Linked DNA regions of Homo sapiens. The protein of the gene in region 1 purifies or fractionates together with the protein of each later gene. This does not show direct contact. Each region holds a gene or a part of one and is shown in the gene's direction. Other genes may lie near its edges.

Region 1 (3,500 bases):
AGCCCGCTCCACCACTCAAAATACTGCATCAAAACCAGGCCACGCTCTGTTGGGGGGACACCAAACCTGGCCCCAGCAGGAGCGTAAGAAACTTCCTGCGAGTTGGAAAAAAATGCCTTTTTTTTTTTTTTTTTTTTGAGACGCAGTCTCGCTCTGGAGTGCAGTGGTGCGATCTCGGCCCACTGTGACCTCCACCTCTCAGGTTCAAGCTATTCTCTTACCTCAACCTCCTGAGTAGCTGAGATTACAGGCACCCACTACCACACCTGGCTGATTTTTTTTTGTATTTTCAGTAGAGACAGGGTTTCACCATGTTGGCCAGGCTGGTCTCAAACTCCTCACCTCAAATGATCCACCCACCTTGGCTCCCGAAGTGCTGGGATTACAGGCGTGAGCCACTGTGCCTGGCCAGAAATGCCCTTTCTGACCAGAGTCAAAGTTCCCCCAATGCCTGGGTAGCCCAGCTTCCCCATTGGCTCCTGAAATCCACCCCTTTAGGTTTCCTTTCCCTGCTCAGAAGCTGTGCCAGAGGGGACATTTCCTGGGAGGCTGAGGGTCACCACGATACCATGACAGAGTCTGGCAAGGTATGGAAGGCACTCTCAGGCTAGCTGCCCCTTTGGGGGCCTCTTGGACCTCAGGAGCTCAAACCAGCATAATTTTGGAGCCAAGGGACCTCATGAGCCTCTCAGAGAGCTTGGAGTCTGCCCTGATTTGCACAGATGCAGGCCTGAGAGAGGAGGCCTGGCAGGACAGGAAGAAATGGTTGACTCCTCCCAAGCTGGAGCCCACCCAGCATGGGTTAACACGCGCCTTCATCCTCTCTCTCCTCAGCCCATCCTCTATTCCTATTTCCGAAGCTCCTGCTCATGGAGAGTTCGAATTGGTAAGAGATGTGCCTCCTCCAGGATGAGTGCTGGAGTGGGGTGGACTGGGGCGGATAAGCCCGGGTGCAAAGCTGGCCTGGGATGGAAGGGTTGCTCTGTCAGAGAGGACCTCACCCCCAGCAACCAGCATCCCCCGGCTCCTAGAACCCCCATCCCTGCATGGCATCTCCACCCCGGAAACACAGGGTGAGGGTGGGAGGAAGGGGGTTGTTTTTTCCCTTGGGACTGACACTTCTCCCAACACTGCTCTCCAAAGCCCCTTGGCAACCATGTTTAAAGCAGGGTCACAAAATCCACATGCCCCTGGTAACTGGCAGGGGAACAGCTGGCCCTTCTCAGTTCTTATTTTATTTGAACTGGCAAAGCAAACAGAACGGGCCAGCATCAGCCTCGGAGGCTTCAGAAAAGCAGAAACAAGGGCCCTGTGGCTAGTCCTTGTTTGACCCTTCCCTCCCTTGGCTTAACACAGCCTTTGGCAAAGGTCATAACCAAAGCAGCCTGTACTGAGGAAAAGCTCTGTGCTGAGTGCTTTTGTGTGCCTGATTCCATTTAAACCTCAGCAACCCTAGGAGGGAGGTACTATTATTACTGTCCCCATTGTATAGAGGAGGAAGCTGAGGCACAAAAAACAGGCAACATTCAGTAACTTGCCCAAGATCTTTCAGTTACTAAGAGGCAGAACTGGAATTTGAACCAGGTAGTCTGGCTCCAGAGGCCCATTAAGTTACTTGCCCAGGGCCACACAGTTAGCAAATGACTGTGATGAAATTTGAACCCAAGAAGCTTGCCTCCAGAGTGTGGAGGCAAAGCCATCCTCCGTGACCCCTCCTCCATCCCATAGTCACTTGGTATTTGCTGGGATCAGTAAGCAAGAGCACTGGGTGCCAGGAGAAACTTTCCTCCAAGAAGATGAACCCATCCCTGGGCGCCAGTACCTCTGCCCTGGCTGAGCCAGAAGCCGGAGCAATATAGGTGCTGTCTGTACGGCCTGTGTGCTTTGGCCTTCCCTCCTCCAGGTGTCTCCTCCAGCCCCAAACACTGTCACTCCCCAGACTGGAGCTGACCAACACTAGGAGGAGCCTGGTATTGCCCAGGCTCTCCACACCATGACATGTCTGGTCCTCCTCCCCTCATTCCTTTGCCCTTCCCTGAGATTGGCCATCACCATACTTGAATGCCCAAGTGTGTGTAATACACACATGCATGCACACGCACGCAGTCTTCTCCACTAGTGTTGACCCACCCAAGTTTTTTTTACCCTCAGCTTGCCAGGGGAAATTATCAAAAGGGATGGAGAGGAAATCTGGTGACTGGAGTCACGGCAAATGCTCTGAGGCCACCAAAGAGCCTGATGCCTGTCTAGAATCTCTAGTAAACAGCCCTGAGAACAGAGAGAATAGATTGGAAGAGATTCTTCTCCAACAGAACAAGAGTGCCATCTGTCTGTGTGTGCTGTGTGTGGCCACCTGAGCTCCTTCCCTTGGCCCTTAGTTGCCTTCTTGAGGGAGTAATTGCATGTCTTCAACCAAGACACTGGTCACCACTGTTTAAGGCCCTGGGGGGGCAGAGTTAAACACAACACAGCCTTGCTGAACTCCAGGAGCCCACAGAGTGCCAGGGCATACACCTTTATCACCATCCAGGGGGCATGAGGGCCCCATTGGGGGGGTCCAGATCTTGAGGTCTCTAAGAGTTCAGGGGTGAGTGAGGCAGAGCATCGTGCATCTGGGGTAGGGAGCACGTGGTGACAAGGAAAGCTGAGAGAAGGGGATAGTGCCACGGTGAGCCTTGACCACCCAGAAGTGTTAGAGAAGCCTCCCCCTCTTTGGCCTTAATGTCACCTTAGAAGGGCTCTTTCCTTTAAGAGTACGGCGAGAGGCTGTTCTTTGACTCCGCTATGTGCGGTCTCTCCTAGCTCTGGCCTTGAAAGGCATCGACTACGAGACGGTGCCCATCAATCTCATAAAGGATGGGGGCCAACAGGTAAGAAGGCTGTGCCCAGACCACAATGTGGGAATTGGAGGCCTTGAACAGGCACCAGGCAGGGGAAAAAGGGGAGGCTCTGCCCCAGAGAAGTGAACCTGTGTCTTGTGGACTATCACTGCAGGAGGCTGCTGGCTCTCCCTTGTGGGACAAGGTGGCAAGGTGTGCAGTAGCAGGAGGCCTGGGAAGGGCCCAGGTCCAGACTGTGTACCCTAGCCTGGGCTCTCCAGTGCCTGACCCTGGGAGGGTGGGTGGCTAGTGGGTCCCCACCCCATACTGGGCCCTCTGGATGGCTGACTAGGGTAGGAGCTGCCTTGGTGGCCACGGTGTGAGATGCAGGGAAAGCCCATAGCCAGGCTGTTAGGATGAAGCCTATGGCTCAGCAGCAGCTGGGCTTTGGGAGACTGCATGGATCCCCCAGGGATTACCCTGGGCCTAGGATTTAGGGCCTTCCCAGGGAAGGGAGATGGGGGTGGGTGGCAGGCCTGGGGTTCTCCTGCTTGCTTGGCTTTCCTCTGGCCAACTCAGGCCAGGCCACCCAGCCCACCAGGGCCTTGTCTCCACAGTTTTCTAAGGACTTCCAGGCACTGAATCCTATGAAGCAGGTGCCAACCCTGAAGATTGATGGAA
Region 2 (2,199 bases), on another chromosome or scaffold:
TTAAATTGCTGTGAGAACCCATATATGAAAAGAGAGGAGTTGAATTGTGTGTGCCTTTTATGTCTTGAGATTTATATGTGGAAAAGACGACATCTACTTCAAACTGTATTTTTTTCGTTTTTTTTTTTTTTTGGGGAAGGGGGGAGAACGGGGTCTTGCTCTGTCGCCCAGGCTGGAGTGCAGTGGCGCGATCTCAGCTGACTGCAACCTCCACCTCCCGGGTTCAAGGGATTCTGCCTCAGCCTCCCGAGTAGCTGAGACCACAGGTGCGTGCCACCACACCCGGCTAATTTTTTTGTATTTTTAGTAGAGACGGGGTTTAGTAGAGACGGATCACTCCTGACCACGTGATCCGCCCACCTCGGCCTCCCAAAGTGCTGGGATTACAGGCGTGAGCCACCACCCCCGGCCTGTATTTTCAGAGAGGAGAGCTTGGTGTTTTTGTGGTGCCAAGTGGTAAGATAATGTCTCTTTGAGGCTTCCTATGGACTGCCTTTATTTTAGTAAACTCAAGACACCAGTTAACCTCAACAGAGTTTTGGCCTTATTAGAATTTGTTGTGCATCTTATTGAAAGCCAGGTTTACATCACCTCACCCCATTATTCTTTTTAGTTAAATAAATTTACCATGCCAAGTAACCAGAATGGAGCAAATTGGTTGATCTTTAAGGCAGTAGGTTTGACTAGCTAGCTATCATTATTGTCACATCTAATGCTAGGCACCAGAAACCATTTGAGCCAGGAGTGTGAATGAATAATTCCAGAGACACTTTAGACATTTTTTAATGTTTTATATGAACATTTTACATTTGTGTGATTGCCTTAGATATTAAATTTTCCTAGTGCTGATAAAAACAGCAACATTCATAACTTATTTTATATATTGTTCCAAAGAAAAGAATTTGTTTTAATGGTTTCAAAATAACTGCACCTGAATTTGTTTATGTGCCTTAAGTTCTCTAGTGCTATTTCAACTTTTTTTTCAATCTAAATGAAGCTTACCTTAGATAAGGTTCATATTTGTTTCCTATAGAGTAAATAAACTTCCCCTTCTTAAATTGTGTAATAAGCACCAACGTGTGGTTGCTTGGCAGAATGAGAATGTTAAGGGAGATTGTTGGATGTTTGGAGTTTCATTATATTTTTTGTTTTTATTTTTTGATACCTAGGTGCTTTTTAAAATATTCAGACAAATATCTATCTTACATTGATTAAACCCGTGTAAATTCATTTGCAGTATCTACATCGAATGTCAAAAAAGTATACTTATTTTTGTTCCATACTTATGTACAATTTTTTCCCTCTTCAGGCTTTTTCATTTACCTTTTTGAAAAAGCACTTACTCTCCCCTTCCCTATCACCCCTCCCCCAAGGTTTCTTTATTTAAATTTTTATTGAGAGTTGTTGGAGCTCTAAGACAATACAAATTTAGAGTTGAACAAAAGTATAATCTGCTTTACAACTAGTATAGACCTAAGGTCATTTGCTTTCAATTAGAGGCTCCAGAGTCTTCATAGTGGAAAGAATGCTTTGTATTTAATTGTTCTTAGTTAAGTTGTAGCACGTGAATACTTACTTACATGTTTTGTTTAAATATACTTCTTGCATAGTTTAATTTTTTAAAAGTTGTATCTAATAAAATGTCTTTTAACCATTATTACTTGACTATATGGTTGTATTAAATTTTGTTTACGAAAAATTTGTTGTTCTGTTTTATTTTAAGTATATTTAAGGGGTTGTGCAAAAAAGAGATGGGGAAAATACTGGATATATTAATATATGTGTGTATTTACTGGTATGTCCATAAAATAACTGGAAGGATAAATAAGAAACTGAAAATATTAGTGTGTAAGAGGAAAGGAAATGGTGGCTGAAGGACAAGTAAAAATGAAACTTTACTGCATACGTATATGTGTGTAATTATAAATACATATAAAATCAATTTTTTAGTCTGAAACACACGAAAGTATTCCCTATTCAAAAAAAAAAATTTTTTTTTTCTTTTTTTGAGACGGAGTCTCACTCTGTCACCCAGGCTGGAGAGCAGTGGTGCAGTCTTGGCTTACTGCAACCTCTGCCTCCTGGGTTCAAGCGATTCTCGTGCTTCAGCCTCCTGAGTACCTGGGACTACAGGTGCATGCCACCACGCCCGGCTAATTTTTCTTTTTATATTTTTAGTAGAGACAGGGTTTCACCGTG

Evidence for each region.
Region 2: the proteins of GSTZ1 (region 1) and KLHL24 purify together in Homo sapiens (affinity purification with mass spectrometry; one large-scale study listed by BioGRID and IntAct). This does not show direct contact.

The regions. Positions count from the first base shown.
Region 1 is NC_000014.9:77,324,036-77,327,535, forward strand, and holds part of GSTZ1 (maleylacetoacetate isomerase), read left to right. Parts: intron 1-503; exon of another isoform or gene 504-569; coding exon of another isoform or gene 570-587; intron 588-834; coding exon 835-886; intron 887-2,802; coding exon 2,803-2,870; intron 2,871-3,436; coding exon 3,437-3,500.
Region 2 is NC_000003.12:183,682,821-183,685,019, forward strand, and holds the end of KLHL24 (kelch-like protein 24), read left to right. Parts: 3' UTR 1-1,699; downstream 1,700-2,199. UniProt on the Homo sapiens protein: Necessary to maintain the balance between intermediate filament stability and degradation, a process that is essential for skin integrity.